5 separate regions of the Homo sapiens genome follow, and all the other regions are linked to region 1. Evidence: fine-mapped expression QTL. A gene starts in region 1. Each other region holds a variant in brackets. All regions are shown on one strand. Distances are from middle to middle.

The links.
Region 2: its variant is fine-mapped to the expression of LZTS1 in whole blood (TOPMed, PIP above 0.99). The same link has a PIP of 0.9 or more in fibroblasts.
Region 3: its variant is fine-mapped to the expression of LZTS1 in whole blood (TOPMed, PIP above 0.99).
Region 4: its variant is fine-mapped to the expression of LZTS1 in whole blood (TOPMed, PIP above 0.99).
Region 5: its variant is fine-mapped to the expression of LZTS1 in whole blood (TOPMed, PIP above 0.99). The same link has a PIP of 0.9 or more in T cells, blood mononuclear cells and testis.

What each region holds. Positions count from the first base shown.
Region 1 is chr8:20,302,285-20,306,399 of GRCh38, forward strand. LZTS1 (leucine zipper tumor suppressor 1) reads right to left here and starts at 1,679. Exons shown (of 4, transcript NM_021020.5): 1 at 1,456-1,679. RefSeq lists a silencer at 1,669-1,738.
Region 2 is chr8:20,277,554-20,281,668 of GRCh38, forward strand. All of the region lies in intron 1 of LZTS1 (leucine zipper tumor suppressor 1), which reads right to left. The region is part of intron 1 of LZTS1-AS1 (LZTS1 antisense RNA 1); the gene reads left to right. Among named protein-coding and RNA genes, the nearest start is that of LZTS1-AS1, 3.8 kb to the left of the region's middle. The variant C/G (reference allele first, on the strand shown) is at 1,690.
Region 3 is chr8:20,249,684-20,253,798 of GRCh38, forward strand. It overlaps LZTS1 (leucine zipper tumor suppressor 1), which reads right to left. Exons shown (of 4, transcript NM_021020.5): 3 at 3,099-3,902; 4 at 1-680. The coding sequence ends at 39. Among named protein-coding and RNA genes, the nearest start is that of LZTS1-AS1, 24 kb to the right of the region's middle. RefSeq lists an enhancer at 1-426. The variant G/A (reference allele first, on the strand shown) is at 2,169.
Region 4 is chr8:20,270,475-20,274,589 of GRCh38, forward strand. All of the region lies in intron 1 of LZTS1 (leucine zipper tumor suppressor 1), which reads right to left. Among named protein-coding and RNA genes, the nearest start is that of LZTS1-AS1, 3.2 kb to the right of the region's middle. RefSeq lists an enhancer at 1,400-1,935. The variant C/T (reference allele first, on the strand shown) is at 2,010.
Region 5 is chr8:20,263,955-20,268,069 of GRCh38, forward strand. All of the region lies in intron 1 of LZTS1 (leucine zipper tumor suppressor 1), which reads right to left. Among named protein-coding and RNA genes, the nearest start is that of LZTS1-AS1, 9.8 kb to the right of the region's middle. The variant T/C (reference allele first, on the strand shown) is at 1,616.

The DNA.
Region 1 (4,115 bases):
TTAGCCTGCATGCTCTCTGCCCACAGACTTCTACCCACAGACTATGTTCCACTCCACTCTTAAACACAAACACCTTTCCCGTCTGTACATGCTATCTCTAATACCCATATGCGCACACTCTTCGGGCACCTCCATTCTCCCTCTGGATGCCTGCAGAAAATTGTTTTTGAACTTAGAGAAAGCTCAGGTTGCAAACACCCTCTTGCCGGTACCCGCAGACTCTTCTCAGGGTCTTGGTGCAGGAACTGCCAAGCAGATAGCTCATCTCTTTGTGGCTGGGCTCCTGGGCTCCCAGCATTCCTATTAGGCTGCACTTCCAGCAGAGTGTGGGATCCTTATTAGGAGCAGCGCCTGCCCGGCATGGTCCAGAACTCAGTGCCTCCTCAGTACTTTCCCAGCGCCCGGGACCAGAGAGTAGAGGGGCTGATGGCAGCGGGACGGTGTGGAGGGAATAAGTGAGACAGGAAACACTTTAGGAGGCCAGATCCCTAAGCACTTCTTATTCCTGGGAAATTGAAGACTGCGAAGCTAACAAGTCTGGAGCACTTTCCCAGGCCTGACATACTCGTGGGCGAGCACAAGGCTCATTTGCTCCACAGTTCAAACCTTTCCACTTGGAGCACGAAAAAGAGACATCACCTGGCCCTTGGTGTCTCGGGGATGCCTGTTGCTGCCAAGCTGCGACCTCTGAAGCCCCTCCAGCCAGAGCAAAGCCTGTGGCAGGGTGGAGGGGTGAGGTCTGGCTGCCTAGGGTGGCGGTGGAAGAAGTGAAGGTAGTGTGGGGCTGTCTGTGTGTGCATGGTGCTTTGACTAAATTCCTGAATTGCACATCCAGGACCGACCCCAGGAAGCTGCAGCCCCAGGGAGCCACTTAGACACTTCGATTTACCACCTTCCTCTCTAACCACCTCCGCCCGTGTGACTTATTCCTTGAGGGAAACCTTTCAAATCTCTGGCTGCAACGCACCGGTGTCCTCCCCACCGGTGTGGACACAGCTCATCTGCAAAGTTCCAGGCGGCGAAGTTCAGCGGCCCGGACCGACCGCCGGACCCTCTTCCTGCGGCCCCTGCTCCTGCGGCCTCGCGTCCCCACCTCCCACTTCTTCACCTCCGACACCAGTGTCACCTAACACTGACGTCCCCGCCAGGATCAGCATCGGTGCTGGGAATAGACGAACCCCGTCTGCAGGAGACACGAAGACAAAGACAGGAGGACAGACGCACAGTCACCTCCTCTGGGCCGGGCCGGAGAAGCGGCGCCCACCCTGCAGAGGGGAGACCCTGACAGCTCCACGCGGAGACAAAGACACCTCGACAGCCACGGACACAGACAGACAAAGACCGACGGACGCGCGGACGCACGGACGGTCCGGCCCGGCGAGGGGAAAGCGGTTTCCCGCAGCCAGGGCAGCAGACCCTCCAGGGGCGAGGAGATCCCCGGCCACCGCACCTTACCTGCCCCCTGCGCCTCGGGCGCACTTGAGACTTTTTTTTTTTCCCAGTGTTTCCCGGTGTGTTCCCGTCTCTCTTTTTCCAGAGCTGCTGAGCGGGCCGGGCCGGTCCCACTGCGCGGGATGCAGCTCCCGGCTCCCACTCACTGGCCGAGGCGGGCAGAGAAACTTTCGGCCTCCCCGCCCGGCCGCTGCCAACCCGCCAGCTCCAGGCGCGCCGGCCTCTGCGCGGGTCCCGGAGCCGGGGCGGGGCGGGGCGGGGCGGGGCGGGGCGGGGCCGGCCCGGGGCGGGGCCAGAGCCGGCGCCGCTGATTGGCAGCGAGCTGCCGGCAGCCTGGTCTGTGCCGCTCGGCGGCCTTTGTTCCGGGCTGACAGCTGGGGCTGCTCGCGACCTCGCGGCTCCTTCGCGCCCGCGGCCTGCGCGGGGTCCCGGGTCCCGTCTCTCTGCTCTCACTTCCATCAGCCCCATTGGGCGACCCTGCCCCCTCAGTCTTCCTTTCTTGCCTGGCCCCCTTTCTCCGATTGTTCCTGTCTTGCTCTTGTCGCATCCTTTTTTCCCTTTCATTACCTGAAATTCTTACTCCAGTTTTGTTTAAAATCCATTCCTTCTCCCGTTCTGTGTATGTTCCCCTTTCTTCATTACCCCTTCCTCTTAATCGCCAGTTTATTTTTCTTAATACCGTCTCTCCCGCTCCCGACTCGCACTAAAGGGCGTGTGTTTTGTTCAAGGACTGGACTAGCACCCAAGTGAGGGGCATTGCGAACCACACCAGGATTACAGGCTAGAGTCCAGAGCACCGGGACTCCCACTCCCAAAACATGTCAAAAGCAAACTTTTCCAGCTCTGAGGGAGCTGAGTTTCAGGTGACAGCAGAGGCCTGTTTCAAGTTTATAGCTATTAGTCTCACCCAGTCCCCTTATAATACTATCATTTTCTCAACCACCCTCACTTTTAACTTCTAGCAACTGAGCCAGGAGAGGATTCAAGCTTACAAGGTTTTGTAGGACAAAGGGTCAGTTAACCGGAGTGCTAGGTGCAGCATGAGGCTTGGGGGCTTGAGGGTGCACTGAGGCTAATCCTCTAAAACCAGGCTTGGCGGGAAGATGGCAGCTCTGCCCAAGGAGTGTTAGCCTCATCTTGAAAGAAGCCTGTGTGTGTGTGTGTGTGTGTGTGTGTGTGTGTGTGTGTGTGTTGGGGGGTGGGGGATAGATGTAATGGATTAGGATTGACATAGCCGATCTGATTATAAATAGCATGGGGGCCGGACGCGGTGGCTCATGCCTGTAATCTCAGCACTTTGGGAGGCCGAGGTTGGTGGATCACTTGAGGTCAGGAGTTGAAGACCAGCCTGGCCAACATGGTGAAACCCCGTCTCTACTAAAAAAAAAAAAAAAAAAAAATACAAAAATTAGCTGGGTGTGGTGGCAGGAGCCTGTAATCCCAGCTACTTGGGAGGCTGAGGCTTGGGAATTGCTTGAGCCTGGAAGGCAGAGGTTGCAGTGAGCCAAGATAGTGCCACTGCACTCCAGCCTGGGTGACAGAGTGACACCGTGTCTCAAAATAAATAAATAAATAAATAAATACAAAAAAATTAAATAGAATTGTGGTGGCAGGGGGGACAGCTCAAAGGAAAACAAGCCATATGGTTTCTGCCACACCCCTGCTCAAAACCCTGTAGGGGAATCTCACTGCCTTCGGTTGTTGACCCTGAAGACTCTGACCTTCGAATCTAGGCTTCCTGAAAGATGGCACCGCGAGGGTTTAAGAACACAGACAGGCTTCGCTGCTTGTTATTTGAGCCATTACCTTCCCCTCCCTCTTTCTCAGTTTTTCTTTTTCTTTCTTTCTTTTTTTATTTGTGAAATGAGGTAACAAGTCCCAGTGTAAATTCCCTGAAGGCAGGAACTTGTTCTCTTTTATTGGTGGCTGAGGGACTTGGTCTGTTTTATTCATAGATGTATCCCCGACACCTAGAACTTGCCAGGCAACATAGTAGGCACTCAATATGTATTTGTTAAATGAATGAATTTCTCATGTATAGGTTTGTTCTGATGATTAAATGAAACCCACTGCCTTGCGGTAAGTACATACACGTGGCAGTAATTACAAGCAATACGACAATTTCTAAGTGTCAACCCCAAAGGCTACTCAGCCTTTTCCTGAACATCACCTCCTTTTCCCCACCTTTGTATAAACCTGCCCCTCAGTCTGAAAAGCTTTTCTCCTGCTCTTCTAACTCTACCTCTCAAAATCTGAGACAAAATATGGAACCCTTACTCACACCTTCTCTTATCGTCCAGGGCAAAATAATGTCTTCTTTTTCTAAAGCGCCATGCTTCTTTGTGTTGCATTTATTGACAGAGAACATGTATTCTTGCTTGCTGGTGAGAGTATCTCAAGAATTTTAGCTGAATGAGTTAATATCGATCAAACATTCCAGCGCTTTAAGGAAAGAGCAGACTCCTGGAAGGTAGATTAAGGTATGAGGTGGGCTCCAGACTTCAAACTCATTTTCACATCGTCGGAGGTGAGATTCCATGGAAGAGACAAAGGACTCTGGAAGCCCACTTTTTGTTCTGGCCCTACTGCTGACTATATGCTCTTGGACAAGCCATGTCCCTAATGAGGCCTCAGTTTCCTCATCTGGAAAGTGGATGGTTTGG
Region 2 (4,115 bases), 25 kb before region 1:
GTAACAAGTATATAAGGCTGGTATTAATTCCAACAGGACAAACCAAGAAATGGTTTAAGAACTGGGCCTTTAACTGTGGATTTTCACTTTGTAGGCTGATCTATGAGTTGGAGGAAGTAGGGTGGGGTGTTAGAAAATTCCAGCAACTCCAGGTGGGCGAACTGTCCTAAAAGCACCCTTTTCTCTGTTTCTGTGCACCATAGTGCCAAGAATCTGGTGCAAGATCCAAAACAGCAGGATTTGTCAGCCTCCTAGCCATTTCCCAGTAGGACTTGCTGTGTCTAATGCCAATTCCAGCTTGGTGCAGAGCTTGGGAACCCTGGGACTGGAGGGAAGGCTGGGAGCAGGATAATGTGTGTGTGGAAACACTCCCATCTACTATGAGCACCTTGGAACGTCTTGCTCACCACTGTATGTATCACTTAGCACAGCGCCTGGCACATAGTTGTGTTACAGTAGGTAGTCGGGCAGGCATGAGCAGGGCAGGAGAGTCCCCAACCCAGGAATGTCAGGTGACCATCAGATGGTCAGGTGGTTGTTACAGTGTGTCGCTGAAATAATAATTGGTCACAGCTGGTGCCAGGGACAGGCAGTCTCCCAGTAGATAGAAACACCTGAAGCTGGTGATCAGCAGCTTCCTGATAAGATCTCAGCAGTTGGGTGTGTGGGTTCAAGCATGCGCACTAAGAGGCAAAATGGTATAACTGGTATATTACCTTCCTCTAGGAACGAGACAGGTAAGTGGAGAATTCCTCAAATGAGCATGCACACAACTTCAGTAAACCCACGGTGCAGGTACAGCATTTGCCCTTCCCAAGTGCTGGCAGGCCACTGTGCATGTGGACAGCCCACCCAAAGGGAAGAATCAGGAGGAAATAACGCAACAGGAAGATGCCAACATAAGACCCCAGGTCAAAGGTCAAACCGTACACTTGACTCTCTCACAGGCCTCCCACCGGGCTCTCTTACAAGCGTGCTTCACTCCATTTCATTCCTGCCCTGATAGTTGTTAATACACTTTCACTCCTGCTCTAAAACTTGCCTCAGTTTCTCACTCTGCCTTATACCTCCTCTGTCTAATTCTTTCTCTGAGGAGGCAAGAACTGGGGTTGCTGCAGGCCTGTATGGATTTGCTGCTGCTAATATGGAGCTCAATACATATTCATCAAATGAATGAATGAATGAATGGACTTTCTGCCTTAGTTCTCTCCTAGCTCAAATAGATCTTCCACATTGCAGCAACTAGGCACTGCCTTTCTAAAACACAGACTTGACAGCTTCAGGTTCTTTTCCAGCCTCTCCTCTCTCCAATAATTGTCTTAATTTCCTTCCTCGGAGATCTGTACTCACTCCCTGCAGTACATTCATGACCCTTTATGCCCTGGGTCCCAACCCCAATTGCCAGTTTTATTTGTCCTGTCACCTGTCAGTGCTTTCTCACCATTTCTTCCAAATGCCACTCAGCACATAATGCTCTCATGTGCCACAGGCACAACCTAGAATCTCTTTCACAAAACTTCTCCCTATATCTCCAGCCTTCTGCCTGTGAAAACCCATCCTTCAAGGTCCAGCTCAAATGTCACTTCCTCCAGGAAGCCATCCTATGTTTTCTTTGCTGCCTTGTCTGTCATTGTACAATGGCAGACTGAAACTCTTAGAGAATTGATTTCATTCTGTTTCTGAAGTAAC[C/G]TGTTCTTTATCTGTCTATCCCCTCTGCTAGTCTTTGGGCTTCTTGAAGACTAACATTGTTTTGTCTCCATTTACCCAGCTAAACAGCCATCCAAGGAAGGAGGGAGGGAAATCAGAGAGGCTCAAAGAAGTTGGAAGATGTGTTAGTGGGCTGGTGACAGGAAAATAAAAAATAGCAGACATCTAGCTATTTGCCTCAGAAATTGCTGGACTTTGGAAGGCTGAATTGAGAGAATCGCCTGAGGCCAGGGGTTCGAGACCAGCCTGGGTGACATAGTGAGACCCCCCATGTCTACAAAACATTTTAAAATTAGCTGGGCGTGGTGCCATGCACCTGAAGTCCCAGCTACTGAGAGTCTGAGGTGGGAGGATCGCTTAAGTCCAGGAGTTCCAGGCTGCAGTGAGCTCCAGCCTGGGTGATGGAGCAAGACCCTGTCTCAAAAAAAAAAAAAAAAAAAAAGAGGCTGAGCATGGTGATTTATGCCTGTAATACCAGCACTTTGGGAGGCCAAAGTGAGCAGATCGCTTGAGTTCAGGAGTTTGAGACCAGCATGGGAAACATGGTGAGACCCCAACTCTAATAAAAACAAACAAATAAGCTGGGCATGGTAGCACATGCCCGTAGTCCCAGCTACTCAGGAGGCTGAGGTGGGAGGATCACCTGAGCCCAGGAGGTTGAGGCTGCAGTTAGCCATGATCTCTGGGTGACAGAGAGAAACCGTGTCTCAAAAAAAAAAAAAAAAAATTGCTGAAATTGCCAGTGAATTTTCTTTTCCTGATTTCACTTCCATCCCAAGAAGTAGAATTGCTACTGACCGAGAAAAGAGGTGAAGGAGGCCTTAGGCCATCCTCCTACACAGGAGACAGTGAAAGTGCTTGCTCTTATTCCCTTAGGTACCACCCCAACCCCAGATGAGGCTGGATTTCCCTCGTTTTCTCAGTTCTTTCTTTCGAAGAATCGGCCCTGATCTTCTTAGAGTAGCCCACAATAAGGGTGCACCCTTCCTTCTGCTTTCATCTGCCCAGTAATAGTGCTAATTGGAAGGACTTTGGCTCTTCCCGCAGCCTGGCTTTGTCAGGCGTAACAGTCCTCTCTCATTCTCTGGATGTGGCTCGTGTTCCTGCTGGCAGTCTTCTTCAGAGTTCACTTGTCATTCAGACCTCTGTGAAAGGCCCCCTTACAACTTGCTCATTCACTGTACCTCATTGTCCCTGCCCATTCATTGACATTCATGGGGATAATTCCTCCCGCTGCCACATGCACGGAGGCGCGTGCACATGTGTTCAGACCCCATGTCCCATTAGCAGTGAGAACACTTGAAATAAAAAAGCAGCACCGCCTGAATGTGGAACTGCCTTCCCCTTTAATAGCTGGGGAGTCGATTGCGCTAATGTTATTTCAAGAAGTGCCAGGAGAATTGGTGGGCACAGCAGAGCAGGGAGGGAGGAAGGGGCAGGGTGGTCCTGACAGTTCCCTTCCTTAAAGCACTGTCAGCGACATCACTCCGGACAGACCCAGCTCTCCTCCTCCCATCCTTCCTCCTTAGATCCAGCCAGTTCTGGGAGCTGCACTCCCTACCTTCCACCTGGACATTAGCCTGGCATTCAAGGCTCTCTAAAAAACCGCTCACAAGTACCTCCCAGACTTACCTTCTACCTCCTCTCTAGGCTGAATTCTTCTCTAACCAGCCAGGTCTAGGCTGATGATCTGCAGCTCACAGTTCGCTTATCTGTTCTTTCAAATCATTCCCCAGGGCCTGGGTGGCTGCAATGGCAGCAAGAACAGTTGTTCTCCCTGAGCTACTCAGCAAAGACGGTGTCTACTCAGTATTTTTTAACGTAATGGTTATAGGAATGGTTGAAGAAAATCATTACAGAAGCAGGACAAGGGTAAGATTGTGAGATGGGAGAGGATATCATTTGGATGTTTGTCCCCTCCAAATCTCATGTTGAAATTTGATCTCTAAGGGTGGAGGTGAGGCCTGGTGGGAGGTGTTTAGGTCACCGGGGTGGATCCCTCAAGAATGGCTTAGTGGCCTGGACACGGTGGCTCACGCCTGTAATCCCAGCACTTTGGGAGGCTGAGGTGGGCAGATCACCTGAGGTCAGCAGTTCAAGACCAGCCTGGCCAACATGGTGAAACCCCATCTCTACTAAAAATACAAAAAAAAAAAAAAAAAATTAGCTGCGCATTGTGGTGGGCACCTGTAATCTCAGCTACTCGGGAGGCCGAGGCAGGAGAATCGCTTGCACCTGAGGCAGAAGTTGCAGTGAGCCAAGATCGCACCATTGCACTCCAGCCTGGGCAACAAGAGTGAAACTCTGTCTCAAAAAAAAAAGAATGGCTGAGTGCCCTCCTCACAGTCATGAGTGAGTTCTTGCTGAATTCGTTTGCACAAGAGCTGGTCATTGAAAAGAGGCTGGCA
Region 3 (4,115 bases), 53 kb before region 1:
AGTGCCAGGTCCCCAGACTCGCCTTCCCAGGCAGCCCCTCAGATCTCAGTGGCTATGATGTCCTCGTAGGGGATGTCAGCCCCTTCCAGGTCAACCTCCAAGGGCTCCCCGGCGCTGTCCCCACGTGCCAGCTGCTGCAGGGCCTTCTCCAGGCGCTGGTTCCGCTGGTACATGGCCACGTAGCTCTGCTGCAGCTGTTTCTGGTACTGAATCACCTTCTCCTTCTCCTCCTTCCACACGAGCCGCTCATGCTGGAAGCCCGAGGACATCTGGTCATGGCCTTGCCGCTCCTCCCGCAGCTCGGCCCGCAGCCGCTCCAGCTCCCGCTGCAGGGCAGGGACGTCCTCGGGGAAGGTGGGCGGCCCCATGTCGCGGGCCAGGGCGGCCTGGGCCCGCAGCTCCTGCAGCTCCTGCTCCAGCAGGTTCACCTTCTCCCGCAGCAGCTCCGCCTCGTTCTTCTTGCGCTGCAGCTCATTCTCACAGACCTCCAGCTCCAGGCCCTTGGTGCGCAGGGCGCCCTCCAGGTCCTGGGTCCTCAGCTCCAGGCCCTCCAGCTTGCCCCGCGTGTCCTTCAGCTGTGCCTTGAGACCCAGGATCTCGCTAGCCTTGGCGTTCACCTCCGTCTGGGACTCCTTCAGCTGCTGCTTCAGGAGGGAGATCTCGCCTGACTTCTGGCACACCTGCCGAGGGTGGGGTGGAGACAGAGTGCCAAGAGGTGAGTGTCCTTACCCAGGGAAGTGACAGCTCAGCTGCCTAAAATAACCAAGCCACTCCGGATGCGGTGGCCCGGTGTTAGGCATTCCAGCCTTTGTCCAATCTGAAAGTAAGCTGAACATTGCTGTGACCTTTTCCCCAGGTTATCGAGCTAGGCTATATAGTAAAATGATAAAATAATAATAATCATGTATAATGACACATAGTATATTATTATTGTTATTATTTGAGAAGTCTCGCTTTGTCACCTAGGCTGGGGTGTAGTGGCGTGATCTTGGCTCACTGCAACCTCCGCCTCCCCTCTGATTCTCCTGCCTCAGCCTCCCAAGTAGCTGGGATTACAGACACCTGCCACCATGCCTGGCTGATTTTTGTATTTTTAGTAGAGACGGGGTTTCCTCATGTTGGCCAGGCTGATCTCGAATTCCTGACCTCAAGTGCTCTGCCTGCCTCTGCCTCCCAAAGTGCTGGGATTGCAGGCGTGAGCCACCACGCCTAGCCACACAGAAGTATATTATTATAAACATACTTTCACTAATAATTTGTAGTGTTATTAAGTGCCAAGCCATACATTTGCTCATCTATTCCTTACAACCCGATGAAGTAGGTACTATTAGTAGTCCTCAATTTACATCAATGAAACTGAGGCACAGAGAGGTTATGATAGCAAATAGCTGGTGAAGTGACCAGCCTGAGGGCTAATATATATATATATATATATATATATATATATATATATATATATATATATAAAATATAAAGTATAAGAGTAGAGATTTGATCCCAACAGTTTAATCACTATACCCCATTGCCACCATGGCTAATGTATTTACAATCACCTGGATCATAAGTGGTCAAGCTGAGGTTCAAAGCCAGGCCCATGCCTCAGCCATGACTGTGTCACTCCCTTCGTGGCATGAATACAGGGTTGGCCTTGGAATGAAATTCTTGGTCCCAAGCACGCATCCTGGGTAGGGTCGGATTTTCTCCAGGACTGTGCAGTGTTTCACTGAGGGCAAGGGGAAATTTCTACTGTGAAAGGAAATGTGAAGGTGGCTTCCAGGCTAGTTCCAAGAATCCATTCTGTAGAGCCACATGCTCTGGACTTCATTCACTCTTAAGATTCAGCCAGACTGGCCTTGGTCTCCCATGACCCCAGATGGCCAAGATCCAGAGACACATGGGTCTAACCTGTGGCTTCGGTTTTCATCATTGCTCTTGGCCAAATTTTGATGGGGGATAGGGGTGGAAATAGAGAAGAAGAGCAAGAGGAGAAGACAATGATTCCTCGTTTGACAGATGTGGATTGGGCTCTGCATCCAAGCCAGCATGATACTAGTCACTGGGTACAGCAGTGAATTTGTGAGGTAGTCTTTACTCCAGTAGACAGGAGAGAGGAGGGCTGGGTGCATGCAGGGGTGAGGTCAGAGGATGTGGGCATAAACGTCGATGAC[G/A]GAAATCAGGCTGACACCAAAACCAATACCATTGGTGTTAAATGGGGGTGATACAGCTGCCAGCAGTGGGCAAGTTAAACCACTGGTTGTTGACTTGCACATAGCCAGGGGTTTGCGTGTAGACTGAGAGTTGGACTCTGAACTGGGGGTGAGGCAGGCACGTGGACAGACCAAGCTGGGTGCGAGCATGTAAAGAGCCTCAACGATGGGCTTGAACTCCATGAGTCATCCAGACCACCAGGCTGGTGAGAAAAGCTGCTTTCCCACTAATAGATGCAGAGGTTATGGGGTTCTCCAGCACGGTCAGGTACAGATGCCTCATTTCCACGTGTGACCGGGTGAGTGAGTGTGTGTGAGTGTGTAAGTGTGTGAGTGGGGGACTCTTTACTTCCTCTCCTAGGTTTCCATCTCAGCTCACCAAATAGAAGTTCCACTTACACTTCAGCAAGGAGTGGCCACTTCCATCACTGAAACCTGCCACCAATAGGGTCCCTCTTACTAGTGGGTGCAGTCCCTCCCTCCAAAGCAACAAATGCATTCTGTGCTCTCTTGGGCCCCTGGCCCCGCCTGAACTCAGGCACGGCTTGTTCTTCTTCTGAGCCTCCTGGGAGCTGATGGAAGGGAGGTCAGCCCACAGCCTGGCTGGGCCTTGGTCATCTGGCTTCCGGCTTCATGATTTAATGGCTCACTTGGGAAACTGAAATCTAGGAGCCATGAGGGTGATGGTGGGGACAGGAGGAAGCTCAGATGTAAGTCGATCCCCCAACATGGTTTGCAGGGAGCCCCTTCTTTGGGTGATAAAGCCAGCACATTAGCCCCGCTTGCCTGCGCGGTCTGTGTTTGCACGCTATTGGCCGGCACCAGAAGGAGAGGGGGGTACTGGCGCCAAACCGCTGACCACCCAAACCCATGAGCCCTGTGTGGCCTCACCTCCCACTGGGTCTCCTCCAGCGCGGGGCCGAAGCTGGTCTTCTCCCTCTCGTAGGACCTGAGCTTGGTCTCCAGCAGGTCCTGCTCCTTCATGAGGCTCTCGAGCTCCTGCCGGAGCTGCCGCTTCTCCTGCTGAAGCTGCAGTACCTGCAGGTGCAGGACCTGCTGCGCGCGCTGGCTCTTCTGCGAGGCCTGCTTGAGCTTGTTGCCGCCTTTGGGCTCCGGGCCCTCCAGCTCGTCCCTGCAGCGCCGCGGCCGCTCCTCGTAGGCCAGGCTGGAGGCAAGCTCCTTCTCCTCAAAGCTGCGCTGCAGCTTCTGGAGGGCGCCCTCCCTCTCCAACAGCTTCTGCTCCAGCTCCTGGATGCTGCACTCGTCCGTGGAGATGGGGGAGCGGACACACGAGGGGCCCTTGTCTGCCTTGTTCGAGTGGCCCAGCTTGCTACCTCCGTCGGAGAAGGACAGAGCCTTCAGGCTCATCATGTTGCTGTCCTGGAGGACGATGCCCTGGGTGATGTTGTGGGCGGAGCCCCCAAAACGGCTTGTGGGTCCCACGGGTGTGACCAGCGGGTCCAGCTGGTAGCTGCTGCTGGTGCTGTGTGTGGGCAGGCTGGACATGGAGTTCCGGCCGGAGTCTGACAGCGCCCCAGAGCACAGGCCAGGCTTCAGCTCCTGCTCCTTGGGCTTGTCTGGAGGGGCGGGGTGCAGCTGGTGGCTGGCACTCTCCGGGGAGGAGTGCAGGATGGCTCCTGACCGTGGCAGCACAGGCTTGAAGGCTGTGGGCCTCACTGCACCCTTCTCGGAGCCCTGTAGAGGAAAAGGACCGCGGTGACTCATGCCTCCCCTGCGCGCGCATTGCACCCTCCCTCCCCAGGCACGCGTGCCGACCTTGAGCCAGTCTGGGCTCTCTGAGCGCACGCAGCACCCCTCTTGGTCAATTGTCTCAGCAGACCTTGCCTGTTGCTTTGAAGCAGCTGAATGTCATCTCTCTTAGGAAGGAAAAACCCTAATGGCGACTTG
Region 4 (4,115 bases), 32 kb before region 1:
TTAAGGGAACTTTGGAGCTTGTGAGTTTGGATGGGGCAAGAGTATGGCGAAGGACAGAGGTGGCAAGACAGAGTAGAAAGAAGCAGGAAGGCTGGAAAGCCCTCTGCCACCTCTGCCATACCCAGGAGGGCTTTGGTTTGGACAGGGAAGAGGGAGAACTTAGGACAAAAGGCGCAGACTCCTCCAGGAGGTGGGCAGGTGTGGGACAGGAGGAAGGGTGGGGGAAACACAGTACAAGTCTTAAAGACACTCCCTCCCCTTCTGGCCTTACCCCTCACCCCTACTTCAGTAGGGCTCATCTTTTAGATGCACCGAGTGTGTCCTCTGTGTGTGTGTGTGTGTGTGTGTGTGTGTGTGTTTGTGTGTGTGGAGAGGGAAGGGGTGGAACAGGGAGACCTGGTTGATTTCACATTTCTGGGTTTCGGAACCCAGAAAGGATTGGAATTGAGGAAGCCCCAGCAGGAAGCACAGCTCAGATTCCTGACTTTGGGTGCTGGAAATGACCTGGCGTGGCACGAAGAGTTTAACCTGGTCCCTCAGGGAGGGCAGCTTTGGGTACCTGGCACTGTCTGTGTGTGCCTGAGTGTATTTTTGTGTGCTCAACAGCATGGGAGTCTGTGTGCACAAGCCAGGAAGCCTGTGGCCATTCCCAACGAGTCTCTACCTGTCCTGAGTTAAAGCTCTCTTGGTACCCTTTGATGTGTCTGGCTGAGGAATTTTGACTTCTGTGTCACCTCTGCCCTGATTCCTCAAGCTCCTTGCCTCCTCCTGCAAGGCTTCTCAGTGAACTAGAGCCTCACATTTAGCCCAGGAGCCGCTGAGCCTGGGTTGAGCATCCGGCCGTGTTTCCACTCTCCTGGAGTCTGTGGACCCCACAGCCCCTGACAGTGAGATAATTAACCTCTTGTTGGAAGCCCAGGGCTCCTGCAGTGTTGACCCCCAGCTGCCACCTAAGTCCCTCAGCTGTGCCCCCTCTGTCTCCATGAACCTTCCTGGTGAGTGTTACCAGCAGCAAGGCCAGAGGTGCTTAAAGAGGCTCCGAAGAGCCACCTGTAGATGCTCGGGGTCACTCCCACTTTGCTTCTGAACCTCCTTGCCCTTCTGGCCCCGGTGACGCTGAGTGACTCATAGGCCCCACTTGCCATCCTCTCGGTTCTTTCCCACCTACTCTTCCCTCTGCCAGGAACAACCTCCCTGACCGCGGCTGCTTCACCAGTGCAGGGATGGTGGAAAAGCGCCTCTCCCTCCCCCTTGCCTTCCTTGACTGTGTCTGAATAAAGCAATGCCAGTCCTATGCTCTGTTAAGAATTCAAACCCAAGACTATGCATTTCCATTGCCTGTGGTTTGGTGGGTGCACAGCGGCTGCTGGACAGACTAGCCATAGGCGAGCCAGGTGAAAGCAGGGCCGGGGCCTGGCTTGATGTGCCTGGTGGGGCAGCCGCAGCTGGGGGTCACCTCCCAGTATATGTGTCAGCACAGGCTTTGACAGGTAGAAAGAACAGCCACTGGAGGGGTGAGCTGCTGGGAGCACCTGTGCATTTTTTCAATATTCACAAGTACTTATTGAACATTTATTGTGCACAGTCTCCATCAGGGCCCTGTAGGCATAGCACTGAGCAGAACAGAATCTGCCTTAATAGAATCATGTCATGAATCATGTCAGACAATGGACACATTTAACTTGGCATTCAAGGTCCGATGCAATCTAAGCCCAACCTGTCTTCCCAGGTCATCTCCCACTATTTCAGGCTAGAATGACTGGGCCTGCTTCTTGACTGATCCACGATGTGCAGCTGCTGATACTCTGGGTCGCATCTGACCTCCAGAGTGACCTTACTGGTGTCCCTTGACCACCCTCAAGGGCCTGTCTTGCTTTTTTCCTCCCCTGTGGCTTTGCTCATGCCCAATTCTCCCTTCTGAGCCTGACCCCCCTTCCCAGATCAGGTCCTCATTGGTTTTCCCTGCTGGGTGGTCTTTGTATTTTGAAGTGGTGCCTTTGTCCACTAGA[C/T]ATGGAACTCTTTTTTGAGCCCAGATGCCGATGGGGACCCTAGAATCAAGACCCCCTAGCTGCCCTGTGCTTCTCCTGCTCCCTGTTGCATTTCTCAAATCTTATCAGTCCTTTGCCACTTACAAAGCCCTGTACCCACCTCTGCTGCCACACTCCCTGCAGACAACTTCATCTCTATAATACAGAGATAAGTAGAATCATTGGGAGGAAACTCCCTCAATTCCCTGAACTCATAAACCTGCAATTGACATGACTGCTGCCTCCTCTGTGCCTGTCACCGTGAAACAGAAGTCTGTCTTCATCTCAGACTAATCCTTCCAGCCATGGCGTGACTCTCGTCAACGCCAACCTTCTCACTTCCAGTTTTCTATTATTCTCTCCCATGAGCATTTAAACGTGCACAAGTCTCCCAATTCAAAAATAACATACAAGCTCCTGGACTCCATTTTCTTCTCCAGGGACCACTGTCTTTTTTCTCCCGTTCACAGCCAAGCTTCTCGAGAGAGACAGAACATCATACTCACTATTGCTGCTCGATCATTTCTCATTGGCTCTTCAATCCACAGAGGCCCTGGTTTCTGTCCCCACCAATCCACTAGAACTGCCCTCCGGGATGTTGCTAAATCCAATGGACCTTCCCAATAGTTAGCAAACTTGACCTCTCGGCGGCTCTGTCTCTTTCTTTTTCGGTCTGTGTTTTTTGAAACACTGCTTCCTTGGCTTATGTGATACCGTGATTGCCTGGCTTTCCTCCTGTTGCGCAGCCTGTCCTCTGTCACCTTTACCTCTTTCATTCTCTAAATGTGGATGCTTTTCAGGCTGTATCTGAGACCCTGACCTCTGCTCCTTCTGCACGGCGTCAGCTGCATCCACATGGGGATGATTTTTAGATCGTTATCTGCAGCCAAATCCTCTCCCCTGAGCTCCTGCCCTAAACATCCAACTGCGCTTCCCTCGGAGGGGCCACATCTCACCCTCGCACATCCACAGTGGAATTCTTCATTCTCTCTTGCTTGCCAGGATCCATCTGCCTTCAGCGTGCCCCTCCTTCTGGAATCCCGGTGTTAGTGAACAGCACAACTGTGATCAAGCCAGAAACCGGTCCCAAGAAACCTAAGCAAACCAGGAACTTTTGATTCCCACTCAGCCCTCACCCTACATCTGACCAGCCACCAAGCCCTGTCTCACTATTGCTTTTCCTCAAAACCAGCATTTCCCTGAGATTCCATAGCCACTGTCTTAGTCTAAGTTGCTATCATAGTTCCCTTGGGAAATTAATAGACCTGTTATATTTGTTTTTTTTTTTCCTAGCTCTCCCAAGGCTACCCTATTGCCCCAAAAATAAAGCCCAAATGTCCTAACATGGCAGAGAAGGCCTTCATGACTGGGACTTTCTGTATCTTTGTATCTTCATGTCATCCGCCACCACTTCCTCTCCTCCCCTCCCCAGGCCTGCCCGCCCTCTATTCTGAGACTGGAGTTTGTAAATCTGTCATTTTCTCCCTCAGACCCTGCCCTAGGTTTTCCCACGCTGCTCCCTAGGCCCAAAGCCCCTGGGACTTTGCTCAGAAGGCACTCTTCTGCTATGAAGCCTTCCCGTATCTGTGAGGCCCCTTCTGCGTGTTCTTACAGTGGGCATTAATCACTCTGTAGCACAGCTGCTCTCTACTTTGAGCTCTTTCTCAGTAGATGGCAAGACTGTTTTTCACCCAACACTGTACTCCCAGCTTCGAGCGCAGTACCTTCTGGCCCAAGACTCAGTGCTTGTTTGTTGAATGAATGGATAAGCGTGTGTTTATGCATCGTATTTTATTTTATGGTGCCTATGTTCTACCAGCTACCCTTTCCCAAATGCAACACCATAAAACACTCTACACAGTGGGTGTTTACGAACTTTTCATCCCTTCTCCTCATCCTAGGGAACCCCTTGGAATACACTAGGTAGCTTGGAGCATAGCGGCAATCATCTCCATCCCGGTGTGTGATGGAGGCTTCTCCATGTGGGCACTCATGCCTCAGTGGCACTCTGGCCTGAGCATTGGGTCCGAGCCTGTGGGCGTGTTGGAGTCTGTGGGCCTGAGTGTTAGACCCCCCTTATGTGGAGAT
Region 5 (4,115 bases), 38 kb before region 1:
ATTTGTTTCAGAAATGAAACAAACATCTCAGAGCTGGAGTCCCCATTCCCTATTCCTTCTCCCCACTCCCACCCCTAATCTCTCTCCCCAGGTGGAAAATTCTCATGATTTGAGTGGGAACATTTTTGGATCATTAAACATATTTTAACGTCTATGAATGCTATATGTTTTTTACTTTACATAAGTCATATCATGTCATATATATCATTCTGCAACCTTAATTGTTTTATTCGACCTTTTATTTGATACTTCGGATCCATGCATATTGACAGCATGTAGAGCTAGATCTTCCCATTTACCTGCTGTGTAATATTCCACCTCATTTCTTTTACTATTCCCTACTTAGATGTTTCCATTCTGTTGCAAAAACCCTCTTATATATGATTATTTTTCCACGTATGAAAGCTTTACTAAGATTTATTTTATTGGGGGTCTCAGAAGCTGTCAGTTTTTAAAGCCCCGTTCCTTAAACTGTGCAGGAGAGACGACATCTAGGACCTCTATTAGCCAAGATATCAAAGGAAGGCAGCGGCAGTGAGACAGAGAGCCCCTGAGTCACAGTTGGCTGTGTTACCCTGGGGGAGGGGAGGAGAAGTTGCTGTTACTCAGAAGAGGGGCACTGGCAGAAATGAGGCCCAGGGAGGAGCCCTGTGACCAGGTGTGGTGAAGGAGCTTTGGCTGAGCAGAGGGGTTGACCTGCTGCAGGTACAGAGGAGCCCCCTGCTCTGAGGCAGCCTGGAACTCGAGGCACAACCAGCCAGGCAGGACCTCGGCCGTCCTCTGCCCCAAATGCTTCACTACACCCTGAGGCCAGAGCGGAAAAGGGATTTGCCAAGCTCATATCACAAATTCCAGGCTCCAACCCTTTATTCTGTCTATTTGACTAACAGGACAGGGACAACTGGGTTTCATTTCCAGCTGAGGGGAAGAGGGAAACGGGAGAAAGAGCAGCCCCTGATCTACCAGGGCACGTGTGGAAAGGGGGGATGTGGGGTGTGTACGTGTGTGTGTCAGTTTGTCTGATACAAATGGGAGTTCAGCCTGTTGGGCTCACGGTGCTGCTTGAATCAGAGAGGGTCACCCTGTGGGTTCAAGTGCTGGGAAGGCAGAGGAGGCTGCAGCTGCTGTCCCAGGTCGGGGAGCAAGCTGTCTGCAGGAATGGCTGGTAGGTTGCCGGGCAGGGATCAGAGTTCTGCCTGTAGCTCTCTCCTTCCCACTGGGGCGGCATCACCAGCCCAGGGTAATTTCTAATCTTAGCCATGGGAACCACGCCTTCGCTTTTTCATGCTCAGTTCCATCTGTGCAACCTGGAGCACTTCACACTCACTATTATTCATTCACATTGTCCCCCAGGGTAGCGGCATGGCAGGCATCGTGTTGACTGCAGAGAAAAAGAGGAGCAAGGCCTCTCATAAAGAACTTGCATCTCAGCTAGGCATGGTGGCTCATGGCTATAATCCCAACACTTTGGGAGGCCAAGGGAGGAGGATGGCTTGAGGTCAGGAGTTCGAGACCAGCCTGGGAAACACTGTGAGACCCTCCCTGCCATGTCTACAAAAGATTTTTTAAAAAAATGAGCCAGGCACAGTGCCACAATGCCTATAGTCCCAGCTAT[T/C]TGGTAGGCTGAGGTGGGAGGATTGCTTCAGGCTAGGAGTTGGAGGTTGCAATGAGCTATGATCATGCCACTGCACTCCAGCCTGGGCAACAGAGAGACTCTGTCTCAAAAAAAAAAAAAAAAAAAAAAAAAAGGCAGGGGAGAAAACAACCCCTGAATCTCACCATGAAACCTCAGCTTCCTTTCCAAGAAAGAATACAGCCCTGTTTCAGGCCTGGCTCCCATCTCCCTGCTCTGCGCAGAGGGCAGGAAGTTCCCTTGGCCACAGTTGCTCCTCAGTGCTCAGCTCCCTTGGCCCTCAGCCTGCACAGCTCTTGCATCATCTAACTTTTCAGGGGTGAAAGTCTGTCACCCCACTTATCTTTAAACCCCCTTGAAGGCAGATAGCACTAAAGCTTCTTTGTATCACACACAGGGTCAAACACAGTACTAAGAACATAATAGATGCTCAACAATTTTTTTTTTTTTTTGGAGACAGAGTCTCACTCTCTTGTCCAGGCTGGAGTGCAGTGGTGCAATTGTAGCCCACTGCAACCTCAACCTCCAAGGCTCAAGAGATCCTCCTTCCTCTGCCTCCCAAGTAGCTGGGACTACAGGTATATGCCACCATAACTGTCTAATTTTTAAATTTTGTGCAGAGACAGGGCAGGGCTTGCTATGTTGCCTAGGCTGGTCTCAAACTCCTGGGCTCAAGTGATCTTCCTGCCTTGGCCGCCCAAAGTGCTGGAATTACCAGTGTGAGCCATCACACCTGGCTCTCAATAAATATTTTTAATAAAACCAGCTCATAAGGAGGCACAGGGACTACTGACCTAGTTCACAGAAGGGAAGCTGAGGCTCTGGGAAGGCATGTGACTTAAACTGAGGTCTCCACATATGCAGATACCGAAGCCAAGTCTATACTACCAGAACCCAAATCTGGTTTTCACTCAAACATTCATCATGTAGACTTTGAGACAACTGGTCACCTGGGGGAAGTGCATCCACCCCCTTCCTCAACAACCAATCCTGTTCGGCGTTTTGGACCAAGACAAAAAAAAAATACAAGGCAGAGTTTCTGTTTTTGAGGATCTGGTGGAGAGATCTGACAGCTATGTACACCTAAACAAAAAGGGTTTAAAAAGCAGCATGAATTTAACCAAAAATGCAGCTTTCTTAGGAATGTGCTGAGTTAGAGCCAGTTTGTCTCTGCCCCTAGCATGTGAGCGGTTTTTAATTTTTTCTTTTGTAGGAAAGGAGGTGAAAGTTACTCTCTTGGCCAGGCATGGTGGCTCACACCTGTAATCCCAGCACTTGGGGATGCCAAGGTGGGCAGATCACCAGAGGTCAGGAGTTCAAGACCAGCCTGGGCAACATGGTGAAACCCTGTCTCTACTAAAAATACAAAAATTAGCCAGGCATGGTGGCGCGCACCTGTAGTCCCAGCCACTCAGGAGGCTGAGGCCGAGGAATCACTTGAACCCAGGAGGCAGAGGTTGCAGTGAGCCAAGATCGCACCACTGCATTCCAGCCTGGGCAACAAAGTGAGACTCCATCTCAAAAAAAAAAAAAAAGAAAAGAAAAAAAAAGAAAACAGCTACTCTCTTATCCGCCTCACCTCTCAGGCACCCTGGTGGAGGATGCTGTCTGGGCTGTCGGGTCCCCTGGTTTCTGGCATCGTCCTTGTGTTCTTTTCCTCCTGCTTCTTTGTCCCCAGGGTGCTGAGAGCCCAAGAGTGTAGACCTGGTCTCCATGTTGGGGGCTGGATAGCAGAGGTGCGGGAGTTGGGGTAGGAGGGCGGTGCTGCAGTCAGGGAACCAGAGCTCTAATTCTGGTGCTGCCTCACTCCTGCTCTGGGACACTCAACCCACTTACTGGGCCCTGCCTACTCTTACATGTGGCCAGCACAGTTGTAGGGCCTTAGGAGGAAACCATCAGTCATCATTCATCAGAACAGACACTTGTTTTTTTGCTTGTTTGTTTTTTGAGACAGAGTCTCACTCTGTCGCCAGGCTGGAGTGCAGTGATGTGATCTCGGCTCACTGCAACCTCTGCCTCCCGGGTTCAAGTGACTCTTCTGCCTCAGCCTCCCAAGTAGCTGGGACTACAGGCGCTCACGCCACCATGCCCAGCTAATTTTTTTATTTTCAGTAGAGACGGGTTTCACCATGTTGGCCAGGATGGTCTCGATCTCTTGACCTCATGATCCACCCGACTCGGACTCCCAAAGTGCTGGGATTACAGGTGTGAGCCACTGCGCCCGGCCCAGACCTCACACTTGGCACACACTTTACTTGCATGTTTGCATTAGGCCCTAGACAAAAGATCCCAGACCGACGGATCTGCTGTATCATCAGGCATACAATTCAATCTTTCAGGGTCTCCATTTCCTCATGTGTCAGATAAGCACAGTTGATACCAAAGCCCGGCCACTGTCAGGATTAAATGAAATCACAGATACAAAAAATGCTTGACCAGTGAGGACAGTACACATGGGATGCACTGAAACCAAAGTGCATGT